Linked DNA regions of Homo sapiens. The protein of the gene in region 2 purifies or fractionates together with the protein of the main gene of each other region. This does not show direct contact. Each region holds a gene or a part of one and is shown on either strand. Other genes may lie near its edges.

Region 1 (7,763 bases), on a different chromosome or scaffold from region 2:
AGTTCTGGCACAGCACAGCCCATGTTGTTTAAGATCTTTTCCAGAAGATGGTTATACTTAATCATGCCAAAGGTCTGTGCATGATTAACAGACCTGTTTGGTGGGAAAACCAAGTGCAGCCAGCAGGGTTTGCTCAGGCCCAGCTCTGCCTCTGCTGGGGCAGTTTCCTGCACTGTCGTCCGTACTTCTAAGGCTATGGTTCACAAAGTAAGAGCAAGGCAGGGGAAACCATTCCAGCTATGTAGAAGGATAATTTACTTCTGCCATTGGAGCTAAGGAGGCAAAGTCTTAAGAACAGGTTTGGGTATCAAACTATACATGAACAGGGGAAGAGGGAAGAAGGTTGGAAAGAAGGCATGGGCAGGATGTGAGTTACCCTAAAAAGATTTAACAATTATGGACCTAAAGGTATCTGTAAAATATGAAACTCCTTGCAAAAAAGACAGTAAAAGAGCCAAATGACAAGCTACTAATAAAAGCTAAAGTATAACTTGATTTGAATGTAGCACACCTTCATGAGGAAGGGGTCTTGGCTTATTATTCATAGGTCTGGGATCTAAGCAATCTGCTCCTTTATTCTGAACCTGGCTGCCAAGACAGCCTGAGTCAAGCACCCTGTACATTTGGCAGTTCTGCTTTGTTCCCTGTATATGAATCCCTTGTAGCACCCCAGGTCACTGTTAGCACCTACAGTAGTAACTCCTCAAAAACAGGAAGTGAGAGAGTTACTTCCAGGAAAAAAGGAAAAGTAAGACTAGCTACACCCTATGGCATTTGACTGGATTTGGAAGAATCAGGATGAACTTGTGGTTTTTAATATTTTTAAAAAGTTATACATAGAGAAATATTGATATCTTTCCTGGCTATGTCCTCTCAACGGGCCTAGAAGAAATGATATACCTGTAGCAATGAGGACACCTAGTGACCACATCCTGGTGTCTGAATACCATTCTCGGTGGGCCCAAGTGGGAGGCAAGTTTGCTGTGTGCCCTAAATACCATTCTCCACCAAAAAGAACCAGGGCTTCTTGGAGAAATGACTGATTCCAGGGTTGGGGCAGGAAAAGTTATGCTATAAGCCCGGAACATCTTGCTGCCCCAGAAAGTAAGGCAGTGCTCCAAGAACAATGAAGACACATGCAAGGGACATAAGAACTAGCTTCAAGGGGCTCCCACTGGCCAAATCTGGGATAATTTGAATAATTAAAAAATGATAGTAACAGATTATAACCCACTGAATAAAATAAGAATATATGAGTCAATACTGATATGAATGAAGGAGAAGGGAAAGCCCTTCTTTACAGTAAAATACCAACTAATAAGTAGAGAAAGAATGATAGAAAATCATATCCCACAAAAATAATTGGCCTGGACTCTTCAAAAAGATCAAGATCAAAAATGATAAAGGGTAAAGATTCCAGATTAAAGGAAACTAAAACAACGTGATAACTACATGCAACATATGATCCTGGGCAGGATGCAGGGGGCAGAGGAGTACAGATAGTCCAGATAGATATCAATAGTACAGATAGTACTATTTCTGTAATAGTACAGACAGTACGTATAGTAGATGAGGGAATACAAAAGGCAATGTTTGAGACAACTGACAAAATTTAAACATGGTCTATGGATTACAGAACAGCATTAGCTCAAGATTACATTTCTCAAATTTGGTCATTTGTACTGTAGTTATATAAGAGAATATCCAGCTGGGTGCGGTGATTCACACCTATAATCTCAGCACTTTGGGAGGCTGAGGCAGGCAGATCACTTAAGGTCAGGAGTTTGAGACCAGCCTGGCCAACATGGTGAAACCCCATCTCTACTAAAAATACAAAAAAAAAAAAAAAAAAAAAAAATTAGCCAGGCGTGGTGGCATGCTCCTGTAATCTCAGCTACTTGGGAGGCTGAGGCAGAAGAATCACTTGAACCTGGGAGGCGGAGGTTGCAGTGAGCCAAGATCACACCACTGTACTCCAGCCTGGGTGACAGGGCGAAGCTACGTCTCAATAAAAAAAAGAGAGAATATCCTTGTTCTTAGGAAAGATATAATGGAAAGAATACTGAAGGGTATCAGGGTAAAAGGGCAAAAGGTAAACAATTTGTGAATTTGAGTAAAGGGAGTTCCTTATGTTAGTCATGTAACGTTTCTGTAAGTTTGCAATTATACCCAGAATACCTCATTAAATCCCACCCCTCTGGACACCAACTCCCCTGTTGCAGAGGCTGTTTGCTGATGAGGGGTTACCTTGCATATTAAATGGAAATGCTCCAGTGAAGAAAAATGGCTGGAATGCTGGCGCTGGTCCTGCATACGTCCCATTTTGAGGCTCCAGAGACATTGGTGGCTTGGACGGGACAGAAGAAAACAGGGAGCGGCTCTGACTCACTGGTGGCTGACAAACAGGACCCGGTTTTGTGCTTTCTGGTGTTCTGAGTATGGCAGAGGGGGCCGACACATCACCATTCTGAACTAGTGCCAAAGAGGTGTGGTCCCGGGGAAAGGTCCCTAACAGGGGAGGTTCCCCAGGGGGAAGCAATGGAGGTGAGCCATCTGCAGGGGGTGATGCAGGGGGTGTGGAGGGGCCCCCATTCTGCATCTGGGCTGAATCCTCTGCTGTGGGTGTATAGATAAAAGGGAAGGCTGGGTTGGCCAAATAGTTGGGAACAAAGGGCAGTTCTGACTCCTTCTTCAGCTGGGGGAGGTTGTCATCATCATCATCATCATCATCTTCTTCTTCCACTTAAAAAGAAGAAAACAGAACATTTACACAGTCCTTTCAAAATTATCAAAACAAGGTGTCTTTTGAAAGTGGTGTCTTTTGGTATGTGACATTGGTCAGTGTCAGGTCAGAAGAAAAAAGAATACTTCATTAGGTTTATGATTACCATTTTTATCATTATCTTAAATTTTACAAATAAAAAAATAAAACCTTACAATGCTGACCTCCCCAGAAACAATCTGGAATTACTATCTTGGCACAGTAATTTGCTTTTAGAAATAGAACAGTTGCCGGGAGCGGTGCCTCATGCCTGTAATCCCAGCACTTTGGGAGGCTGAGGCTGGCGGATCACCTGAGGTCGGGAGTTTGAGACCAGCCTGACCAACATGGTGAAACCCCGTCTCTACTAAAAATACAAAATTAGCGAGACGTGGTGGCACATGCCTGTAATCCTAGCTACTTGGGAGGCTGAGGCAGGAGAATCACTTGAACCTGGGAGGCAGAGGTTGTGGTGAGCCGAGATCACGCCACTGCACTCCAGCCTGGGCAACAAGAGCTAAACTCCGTCTCGGAAAAAAAAAAAAAAAGAAAGAAATAGAGCAGTTGTTTGACCAGCATTAAGAACGTAGCCAATAATACCACAAGTCTTCAATGAGTCTGAGGAAATCAAAAGTTCCCCCAAACACAGACTCACCTCCCATAATCTTCCTGATTTCTCTCCTTGATGTTAACTGGACTGGCATTTCTCCTTTTGTGGTAAGAATTTCTTTGTCAGCTCCTGATTTTAACAGGTAAGAGACCACCTGACCATGGTTTCGTTTACATGCCCAGTGTAAACAAGTCCTGTACCAAAGAAAATAATGATTGAAAAAGAGGAGAAGTGATTTTGGATTTCAGATTCTAAACATTAGTAAATAATGTATAAACAAGCCTGTTAGAGTTCAGCTAGAACCAGGTAACCGGGCTGGTAATCTCAACTTTTCACAAAGCCGATGAGCAAAATATTTAATATGCTTAAATTTTGTTTTTAAATTTCATTTCTGGCTCCTGAGAAAAACTAACTTAACCTAGGAGTTTTAATTTCAATAGCCTCCAGAAGGTAAGCTCACTGGCTGGCTAACTCCAATGATACCGTGGAATATACTCTATCAGTATCGCTCATTAGATCATCTCAGTCTCTGAAACATATTTTTCTATTGCTATATTCCTTTTCAGGGACTATGGAAACTCACTTCATATGCCACCTGAAGATTCAATATTATCAGGATAATAACCATCTCCTATCAGCAGCTTGCTCTGTCACTTAAATTATTATTATGACAGCAGATATTCTTGCCTGAATCCCAGTTGCTCACTTTCTTTTTCCTTCTTACTTTTCTTTCCTTAACACACACACAAAGGATTTCCAAATTTCCATTTTTAAAAAGTTGGCTTCTCTAGTTCTCTCCAGAAGGCTACAAACATATCCTCATCTGCGTAAATGTAAGGCACTGCACACATACTTTAATTCCTGAGGTACTTAAAAAATATACATCAACAACCAAAATTCTTCACGAACAGGTTCTTCTAACATATCAGACTCATTTAAGTAAAACTAATCACTCAATATTGTACACAGAGGAAGCAATTCTGCACACTCTGAAGGGCTACTATTTTAATACTGTACAGAAACATAATTAGCATGCCAGCAAAAACTCCATCTTAACAGAAATGAAAGATTCAGAGCAACTAAATCCATCCCTAGGTGCCAGAGCTGACTGTATATTATGGAAGGAAAATACTTTTCGCCTGTGTTTTGAAAGGTCTTCTTTCACCAACTCTCTAACTGAACTGAGATACATATCTTCAGAGCTCTTATAGCCAAATACAGAAATGAAGATTAGAACAAATGTTCAATATTGAAGGTTAGTTCACTAACCTGGGAAGTATAATTATTTGGAAAGTTTATATGATTCCAGGAAAAAGCTGATTTGCCCTGGGCTTAACATTAGTAACTTACAGAAAGTTAGCATGTCTGGCTGGCTGGGAGCAATTCCATTGATGTCTCAGAGTGACATTCTACATTATGGTTCATTAGAATTAGATTATCCAGGTTCCTTTAAGGTGTATTCCATGATGCAATGACAAAATTATTGCTAATTTGGGAAAAATAAGAGTCTCGTTAAGTTTGGGAGAGAAGAGTCTTGATCAAGCTCCCTGAAGGCAAGGAAGTGTTTGCTTGGCATGTATTAATTAATATTTACTGAATGGGCCAGGCACGGTGGCTCACACCTGTAATCCCAGCACTTAGGGAGGCCAAGGCAGGTGGATCACTTTAGGTCGGGAGTTTGAGACCAGCCTGCCCAATAGGGTGAAACCCCATCTCTACTAAAAATACAAAAATTAGTGTGATGGTGCATGTCTGTAATCCCAGCTACTGGGGAGGCTGAGGCAGGAGAATTGCTTGAACCCAGGAGGTGGAGGTTGCAGCGAGCCAAGATTGTGCCACTGCACTTCAGCCTGGGCAACACAGCAAGACTCCATCTCAAAAAAAAAAAAAGTACCAAATGAGTAAACTAAGGATAAAGTGGACCTTGCTTGAAGTAGAAGGATCCAATCTACCCTTGATTCTGGGCAAACTGGAACCTTGAGTGTGTTTGTGTGTGGATGTCTGTGGCACAGGCTTAAAAAGTGAACAATTATAATGATAAGTGAGCCCTCAAAAATGAATGAAGCATGATGAGAAAAATATGCTCCCTTTTGGAAATAAAATGCTCACTTGCTAGTAGTAGATCACTTGTTCGTGGCAAGCTTGAGAGTAAAGGAGGTAATTTACTACCAGTGGGTCTGAGAGACTCTGGGACAAACCAACTTGCTAAACTACCACCCATGTAAAGCAGGGTTAAGTCAACATAGCGTGGCCCCCACAGCCCTGTGCCTTAGTGATCATCATTTACCGTCCAGAGCTGTGCGGCTCTGGGCAGCCATAACTCAGAGCCCCTGCAGCCAGGTAATATTTTCAAGTTCTTCATGAACCAAGGGTTATGCATGACACTTGAATTACAACTGATGTGGGGGAATGATTAGTGATCAATCTAATTGATAGATTACTCTATCTTTGAACTTCAACTCCTTAAGCTTTACATTTGCAGTCAAAATATCTTATTAGTGTCAGAAACTATTTCAGACCTGAGGCACTGGGTGTCATTCATCAACAGGGCATCACTCATTGGTGCTGAAATTGTGATTACTGAGCAACTAAGACTTGAAAGCAGTCACCATTCTGCTTTGCAAATGCAAGAGAGTACGTTTTTTTGAGGGTAACCTTATATTCCATTATCTAGCATATTGCTTCATAATAAGAAAACAACAACAATGGCTAATACAGGTATAATGCTTTACGTGTTGGACATTGTTCTAAAGGCATTACATGTATTAACTTATTTAATCCTCTAAACCCATGAGGTAATACTACTGTCAACATTCCCCCCATTTTACAGAAGAGGAAACAGACATCAGCAAATAAATAAGCAAAGCACGCAGTACGCTAGGTGGTGATGAAGTATGACAGCAATAGTAAAGCAGGGAAAGGCATTAGGGAATGACAGAGGTTGGAAAGGGGCATTGTGCAACTTTAAATTGAGGGCCCAGGAAAAGCCTTGCCAAGAAGGTGACATCTAAACTAAAATCTGAAGGTGGTGAGGAAGCAAACCATGTGATATCTGGAGGGAAAGCATTTAAGAGAGTGGGAAGACAAAACGCAAAGATCTTGAATCAGGACTGTCTGGTATTCCAGAGAAAGCAAGGAGGCCAGGGGAAAAAGGTAAGCAGAAGGGCAAATCCCATGAGATTAGCACAGAGGTAAGGAGGGAAGATGTGGGGACAGGAAGTAGAAATTGTAGGACCCTGTAGGCTTTTACTGAGTGAGATAGGAGCCATTTTTGAGCAGAGTGAAATGATCTGACTTATGTTTTAAGTCAGGATCCCTCTGACCACTGTGTTAATTAAGAAGACTGTATGATATAAGCTTAGGAGCAAGGACACTAGTAGGAGGCTATTGTAATAATCCAAGCAAGAGAAACAATGGTGGCTTTGTATCAGAGGTGTAGTGGTAGGGTTAGTGAGAAGTAGTCAGATTCTGACTGTATCTGAAGGTGGAGCTCATAGAATTGGCTGACTGGATGTCGGCTATGAAAGACAGGAGGCAAGCAGGAGGCAAGCAGGGTGCCAAGGGTTCTGGCCTGAGCACTCCTGAGAGGCTGAGGACTCAGAGGAGCAGGCTTGAGGTGGTAGAGGGATGAGGGGAGACTTGGAATTCAATCTTGGACATGTTGAGTTTGAGGGGCCTATTAGACAGTTCCTCCAATTAAATCTACAAGAGGCCGGGCGCGGTGGCTCACGCCTATAATCCCAGCACTTTGGGAGGCCGAGGCGGGCAGATCACCTGAGGTCAGGAGTTCGAGACCAGCTTGGCTAACATGGTGAAACCCCATTTCTACTAAAAATACAAAAAACTAGCCAGGCGTGGTGGCACACACCTGTAATCCTAGTTACTTGGGAGGATGAGGCAGGAGAATCGCTTGAACCCAGGAGGTGGAGGATGCAGTGAGCTGAGATCACGCATTGCACTCCAGCCTGGGTGACAAGAGTGAAACTCCATCTCAAAAAAAAAAAAAAAAAAAAAAACCTATAAGAAGCCTCTTCAGGCTACCTCAGAATCACTTCACTAAACACCTCCTATGGGGCAGACATTGTGTTTAGGAGGGTAGGTCTGGCATCAGATACCAGGTTTGTTTTCTGGCTCCACTAGTTACTGTCAATCCTATGACCTTGGGAAGGGGCACTGTGAAAAGTGAGGAAACAACTTACGGTTTCTGGGCCTCAGTTTCTTCATCTGTAAATGGAGAGAACAGTAACTATGTCCCCAGGTAGTTGTGAACAAGCTAACACATGTAAAACACTTAGAACCCTATCTGAGCTGGCCGGGCACGGTGGCTCACGCCTGTAATCCCAGAACTTTGGGAGGCAGAGTCAGGCGGATCACAAGGTCAGGAGATCGAGA
Region 2 (8,324 bases):
AAGGCAAATATTTTCTTTTCATCCTTGAAATATCAAAAAGTAGGTGACATTCTCAAAGGAAAACCTTAAGTCACAATTTTTCATTATCTACTTTCAGTTAAATATATAAATTTATTGACTTCTTTTAAAAATGTGGGGAGACTTCGGGCGTTCATTCTAATGATGCTATTACTCACATTTAGACCATGTTGCCAGCTATGTTTCCTTTAAACGGTAAAATGTAGAAGACTTTCCTTACAAATAATTTTTTAGAATATATACACCCATTTGCTTCCCACCTTGGAGTTGTGTTTTTCAGTAATCATAATCAGTTTATCACAAGAATGCTTGAAAATAAAAATATTTCAAGTTCTTTACCTTTTAGAATCACTGTTCTATTTGCACTACCTCCTGCATATTTTTAACAGACAATGAAATTGTTACTACTTCTTAACTATTTAACAACTGCTTATTAGTCTGAGAGTACTGACCATGTTCATTTCTAGGGATGATAATATAGACATATACAAATCTAAATCCAAATTTTGATCCTGATATTTAAGTTCTGAATATTCCTTAAAGTTCAAATAGTCTACAGGCTGGGAAGAATAAAAGATGGACAAGACTCTACCAATGAAATTAGTAAAAATGATCACATAAAACTTTTACAGTACATGAACCCTAAGCAATTTATTATGTCCTCTAGATCAAAGTTCTCTATTTCACAAAGAAATTTAGAAGTCTTCTTTTAGATTTCTAAGTTTAAGTGGGAAATTCATCTATAGCAAGTGACCCAATAGAATAAAAATTAACAGTCAATAGAAATGACCTATTTATTCAATGAAAGTTGCAAATAGTTGAAAAGGCAAAAAATCTAATTATATGTGATAGTTTAGTTACATCATAAATACCTCCTTTGAAGAATATAAATATTCAATATTGTGTCTACATGATACACTGTATCATGCATGGGTGCCTATAGAGACACTCACCCGTACAAATTCAATGTAAACAAATAGTAATGATTTGCTGAGATCTTTGTATGTATTACCAATTACAACCACAGGGGAAATTATTAAGGAACGTTATATTGTGTGACATTTTTCAGAATTATTTTAGCTACTAATATTTCTAAATATGATAGTCATACTAACAACCCTATTGATTATCACTTGCTTATTTAATTAGCTAGTTAGAAAAGCATGCCTCTGGGTGAAAAAAAAAAATGAAATTCCCACCAGGAGGAAAAAAGATGTTAACAGATTTGAGCATCAGAATAGGAAAGGGAAAAGTTTAGTTTAAAAAGAGATAATTGAAAAAAAAATACAAATAAAGTTCACAGCAGGAAGCTTGCCTATATAGAGAAATAGGCTACAGCCTGTTAATATGTAACTACCTTTTTATAAGTACAATCTGTTAACAGGCTTACAAATCAGCCTCAGAGTTGTATTTGCAAAAAGTATAATTAGAATTAAAGAATATTATCATTTAAGTGCTACTCTGTGCATTCTAGAAAACTTAACTGTGTTAAATTAGCAAATCGCTACATTAGGTAATGTACAGTATGTTCCACTATGAATAACTTCAACATCTACCTATGATATAAGGCTATATTTGCAAATAAAAGCTCACTAATTAAAGAGTTAATATATAGAAGTGAAAATTTTAATTCAAAACTGTTAAGAAAGCTCAAACATTCGCTGGAATTATCTAGTAAAGATGCAATTTAATTATTAAAAAAAAAAACACAGAAGAAATCAAAGAAAGATGACAGCACCGAAGTATATGTGTTGGCTATTTTACTTTCTTCCCTGATTTGATACTGGCTTTTCTAATATGTGACCACATTCAAGCGTTACTTTATCCTCAATACTCTTTTTCTCTTCCATTGCTTCACTTCTAGAATGTTTTAATCTTTGTCCTTTCTTTTTTCGTCTTTTCATATCAAATTCAGTCGTTTGAGCGATGAACAGCTTGACTTAGCATATTTTTAACCAGCTGGTCTAGCACCTAGCTTGCATTGCATAGTCAGATACAACAAATGTTTATACAGAAGGTAGCTTTCATGAAAATGAAAAAAAGCCTGGGTATCATGCATCCTGGCTTTTTTTAGCTTTTTTTTTTTTAATTCACCATACAGAATACAAAGTTTGAATTCTTTTTAATGGCAAACAAAATTCTATTTATAGTTCAAAAAAATGAACTTATGCTGGGATAAGAACTCAAATTTAAAAATTGCAATGTGTACTTATAGGAACATTAAGAGGGCTAAAATTCTTTCAAAGCCCTGCTTTACTTGCAACAACATCAAATAAAAGGATGCTGCAGATATTTCTCTAAATAGGAACAACTTAATTACAAATACACTATTCCCATCATAGCAAAAGGGGAAAATACAGTAAATTAAAATTCAGTCAAGACAGCTAACACAAAAAGTGGCCACTAAAACTTAGAAAGGGAACAGCTCCATTTATCCCCTTTTCGCCCCTATTTTTGACACTTAGGGAGTAATCTAATATAGCGATGATGTTAAATTTTCTTTGGGGGGAAAAAACGCTCTCTTATATCAACAAAAGGTCATGTGCTTTACTGAGCAGCTTCCAAAGTTTTACGGAAGGATCAAATAGGAACTTATAGCCTCCGTTTAAAGCACCACTAAAACCTTCTGTCACCCTAGAAATTACATGAGACAGAGATGCTGAAAATGGTAACATTCTGCACAAAAGCGTTTTTAAAAGGTGGGGAGAAAACAATCAATGAAGGAAGAAAGTAAGAGAGTGAATGAGAAAGACAGAAGCAGCGAGTTGGGGAGAGAGAGAGAGATGCTTAAGGTTCATTTAATTTGCTGTTATAGGACGCAACCTAAAAACATTAGCAGAAATCTCGGAGACTTTGCAAATCAGTTCAGTTTGGTCCGGGCAATCACAACAAAAAATCAGCTAACAAGATTGCAGAAGCCCTAGCTAAAGGCTTCTCTAACAAACACGTTTTGGGGGAGCATCTTCCAATGATTCAGAGACTACTGTAAAATGGGAGAGTTGTACTTCAATATATTAGGGGGAAAAAACTGTACTCACCTTTCAAACTCCTGAGGTAAATCAGGGTCAGTAAGCATGCTGGAAAAGCACAATTTCCCTTTGTCACAGCAGCCACCTATGATCGTCTCCAACTGAACCTGTCAAGTGAGTCCAAACCTTCTAAACCAATTGATTTTCTCTCTGTCTCTTCCCCCCCTCCCTCCCTCCCTCTCTCTCTCTCTCTCTCTCCCTCTCTCTCTCTGTCTCTCTCTCTCTCTCTCTCTCTCTCTTTCTCCCCCCCTCCTTCCCCTCCTCTCTCTCCTAGGACTCCTTGACCAGTCTCTTAAAGGGGTAGTGCACTTCCAGCAGCGGAGTCTGGCTGCTCCCCCCTCCGCGGAGCCACACGCTCCGGCTGCAAGGCTCTAGACAACCTCAGGGTGCCTGTCCTTTCCTTTTAATTCTCTCTTCTAGACATCACTGAATGTGAGAAGTCAACTCATTTAACACGTCTCCCATACTCTGTCTTCTAAATCATAAAACTCACACACACACATACACACGCAGAACAGTATGATTTTGTAAAACGTATTTGCTGCTGATTAAAAACCTAGTCTATATAATAACAGAAGCTCGATTAAACTGCATTTATTAACTAATTAAGCAAAAAATTTAATGTTAGTAATAGCATTTTTACACAAAGAATTGTTATTCCTTCTCACCCTTTTCTAGGCTCTCTCCGTTCACACACGGAAATACACGCACACACACACACACACACTCACACACACACAACAATCAGGCATTGTTCTGAGGGAAGAAAAGCAACTTTGACAGATTGAAATATAGCAGAGGCCCCTTCAAGGAAACCTGTAAACAACTTGTCACTCACTCTGTCGGTCTCACTGTTAGCTCGTGCTTTCCGCAAAGTGGTGCGAACGTCCTGGCAACCCGACCAAAGTTTCCTCAGCTCTAAACTCCATAAAACACGATGTGCGATGTGGAGGGGAATAGGTATCCACATGCCAAAATAACATACACGAGCGAACAAAAACCCAAAACGAAATCAAAACATAAAAACAAAAAGACGGTACTAACAAACTGTCCTGTTTGGGATCGCTGGGGAGGTCAGGAGTAGGAAGCGCCCCCCTGGCTGTGGATCTCTTTAATTTCCTCTGCCCAGGCAGCCACAGATAACAAGGTGGACAAACTATGGCTTTACAGATTCTAAGCTGGCTGGCAAGGCACAGCCTCCATAGCAGTTCCAATTATCTAGATAAAAATCTGGCAGCCGAGAAAGGTAATCAGGTAATGTACCTTTGACACGAAATGACAGAGGCACATACACACAGAGAGAGAGACACTTACACAGACATGCATGCAGAGATGGTGGCTGCCCCGTGCACCGCAGCATCTGGTCAGGGAGTAAGCACACACTTACCAACAGGAGATAGTGTGCATTCTTCACACACGCATGCACACACACACACACACACACACACACTCACTCACGCACGCTCTCCACTCCTACTGGGAGGGTTCATTCTGCACAAAAGGCTACATTACAGAGCCCGCCCCAATAAGGGAAAGAGAGGAAAAAAAAGCCTTCCATTGTTGAGAGGGCAGGTCAGTTGATTAGATTTTCTGTGGAGAATTCCACGAGGAAATTCCCTTCAAAGCCGAAGTGATTAACTGGGGGCTATTCTGGAAATGGAGCAGACAATGGCTCAATAGTCTGTACAGCCAATGTCCAGGCTGGCACTGAACTCACTTAAAAAAAAAATAAAAGCCAGACTCCCTGTTCTTTTCCACACATTCCTCCCCCCCAACCCCCTCCACTCCTTCCAACTTCCCCTCCCAATTCCTTTTATTTTGCAGCTGGACAACATTAAGGGCCTTTAAAACCACAAGGGTTGACCCCACGGCAGTTTGATTAGGTCCCACTTTTTTTTCTGGAGACAGGCAAACAGTAAGTTTACTTTTTTAGACATTCACAGTGATACATCATACACATATTCCAAAGAGAAAAAAATCAATTATGAACTTATATTAGTAAATTTATTTTTCATTCAAAGCTTATAAATTTTTAGACAAGTTGATAATAACTTAATATTTAATTCTATCATCAGGAGATGTTCTAAAAATATATATATACACACACACACACTACAAAATCAATGTGGAATAAGATTTAAGCATGTCACTATGGAGTTAAGACACTAACAAAACATAGAACTATGACCCACCCTGAAAAAGCTGTTAACAAGGGATGTGGCAAAAATGACTTGATGCTGACATGATTTTCACTTTCAGCAGTTGGGGAAGGGGGGAAGAATATTACTCACTATTCTTTCTTGTTGTTAGTCTCAAATTATTTTTTGTTACAGCAACAACCTACTCCCACACAGAAAAATGAAAAAATTGTTGCATTTATTTTAAATCTCTATTTTTTCAGCCCTTAAGGGACCTACAATCTAATATACTCTAATGGATAATGTATACAAAAATTATATTTTTCTTCATTTGTTAATGGTTGTTATGAGAATTAGGGTATAGTAGCTGCATAGCTATATACACTTTTAAAAATATTTAAAATTTTTTTCCTAACTAGGAAAAATCTTGCTTATCTTATATCAATAGAGAAAAAAAGTGAAGAAGGAGGATGGGTGAGTTACAGGGAGCCATGGGAGTGGAGTCAGGAAGAGGAGGAGGCGGGAGGAGAGGACGCAGAGAGAGCACAAGGAGACATAGTGGCAGCATAAAGATAGAAACAAAGATAATGGCCATAAGGCAGGATGCTGAGATCCGTATGGTCCCAGCTGCTGTCTTGCTACAGCTACTACCTCTGGTTGTTTCTTTGAAACTCTAATCTAGAAGGTCACCAGAGCAGGTAAGAAAGAGTATGAGTGTTTGAGGCCAACTATAGTATAAAGAAAAGATACTCATATTAGAATCTTCCTTATATTTGATTTTGATTTTATTGGCACTTAATATATGTATACATCTGTACATATGCCAAATAAACACAAAGAATATAGAAGAGAATGTTAAATGGTTTGAAAGTTAGTTTTTTGACTTCAATATATTCTGCAAACATTACTGTAGCCATTCAAAAGACAAATTATTTCTTGCACAATCATCTATGCTGAAGGAGTTGAAATAGACGAGGAACTAGACAGAAAATTTGCCAAATAATGATCATCCTAATAATGATAATTTGAACTAATGGAACTCTAAGATCATAAGGAATTTTGTTCACATAAATTAGCTCATGGATCTTACAGAGTAGAAAGGGGTAGGTATGTATTTCCCTAATTTTCCCACTGTTTAACTTGGGCAAACAGAATTTAAAGTCATTCAACTGGTTAGTAGCCCATTTGTTGCTTGAAGCCACTTCTATCTATTTCACTTATGACACCATAATGCAGAATAAACTGATCCTCCAGAATTTATAGTTAGATGAAAATCCCAAGATGGTACTCATACTTTAAGTGACCTGAAAGGCTTTCAGGTAATTGTTATAAAAAATAAAATTTATAAAAGCTGTCATTAAGCTAATACTGTATATGATGGTTTAATTGAATATTTTAAAATGTACCTCTCTAAGCCATAAAAGTTTTCTTTCATTTGAATCCTATATTGAAAATTAGCATTTCTGTCAGACTTTAGAATATCAGCAAAAGGAAAGACTGTTCCAAAATGTTTTGGTTAAATTTTGTCTTGGGTTATTTCATTAAATGATCAAAATGATCCAATCAATACAATGTTTAATATTAAAATACTGTTAATTGAATCTTTTAAATTTTGCATTAAACGTTAAAATGTTTAAATATTAAATATGTGTTCATGACTAGCGCATCTATTAAACCCAAATTCTTTTTCAATTATCAGAAAAGCTTAAGATATTCAATTGACTATAGATATTCTTTACATCACAACTAATACCGCAATGTGATGTTTGTTAAGGTTTCAAAATACATCTGGGTTGAGACATACTTTTGCATTCACTTAACATCTATTAAATGCTTACCAATATGTTAAGTGCTATGGCTTTAATAAAAGAATTTTAAAAAGTTATAACAATTCTAATTATATATATGTATATAAAACCAAATTTCAAATCAATTTTTGAGTATTCAAGCCTTCTGAGGCAGATGTAGTGAGAAAAGTTAAAACAAAAATAAAAAAGCAAATGAACAAAACATAGTGCTAAGAACTGAATAATACATAAAATGGTAAATAAGTATGATCTACAAGCACAGATACACAAATAAAATATATTTTCAGAGATGACCAAAGTGCAACAGTAACCCAATAAAAGTTTTACATTGAATGAGTCTTTTTGACACTGCCGCATCGGTATAATGGAAAATGGAATGAACATGAAAAAGTATGCTTTTGAGCTCATGTTGTTTCCATTGCAGATATAAAAAGGGGATTGACACAGGCTAAGGAATATAAGATATGCTAGAGAACACTGCTGGAAAATTCTCAAAGAGACTATCAAGAACTTTTAAAATCACAAACAAGTTATTTTCAAATTTAACCCCTTTTCAGGTATAGTTTCCAGCATGCATTTCTACTATTTTTGTCCTCATTTTAAAAGGATATATTTTCATTCCTCTATTTTAGATCAGAATCATTAAGTATCTTCTATTTTAATACCTGAAATAAAAATATGTGGTCATAGGTGCAAATTACACTTCCATATTTGATATGAATTCCTACCATCACCCTAGTTTTCACATCTCATAGAATTTGGAAAACTTATTTTGAGAAATAAAACTCTTAATATTATAATCACAATGTATTTAAAGCATATCAGTGTCAGACAATACTAACATTTTATTGCCTTAAGGTGACACAATGGGCATTAAGAAAATGCCTTTTGCCTGTGCTGTTATTTACTTTGTCACAAAAAATTAAAATTAAAAAGAGGACACTTCCTCTTTCAAAAAAAAAGAAAGAAAGAAAGAAAGAAGGAAACTTCCAACCAATATACATCTGTGAGTCATTCACCAGATGCCTGGTGAGCTCACTATTGACCTATCACATGTAGCTTAAAACTCTTAGACTAGTGTCTTGTAATAGTGGACTTCTTCAAAAAATACCTTAGGCATTCTATAGCCTATCTTCTTTTTTAAAGACCTAAAATTCAGTCCACCATAATACATGTATGCCAAGGAACTGGTACACAATAGCCTACAAATTCAAGGTTTTTCTAACTTCATACTCTTTCTATTGTCAGTTGGTTAGAATACACAGATGAATTGTTCTCAGATTGCATATTTGAAGAAACAGTGTTCTTCAGAAACACCTTCACCTTAGAAA

The links. Proteins that work in one complex are often made in the same cells at the same time.
Region 1: the proteins of SOX5 (region 2) and ANKRD40 purify together in Homo sapiens (affinity purification with mass spectrometry; 2 studies listed by BioGRID and IntAct, with this or other methods). This does not show direct contact.

What each region holds. Positions count from the first base shown.
Region 1 is NC_000017.11:50,697,152-50,704,914, forward strand, and holds part of ANKRD40 (ankyrin repeat domain-containing protein 40), read right to left. Parts: intron 3,566-7,763; coding exon 3,417-3,565; intron 2,743-3,416; coding exon 2,248-2,742; intron 1-2,247.
Region 2 is NC_000012.12:23,946,508-23,954,831, forward strand, and holds the start of SOX5 (transcription factor SOX-5), read right to left. Parts: upstream 3,164-8,324; 5' UTR 3,155-3,163; coding exon of another isoform or gene 3,095-3,154; coding exon 3,057-3,094; intron 1-3,056.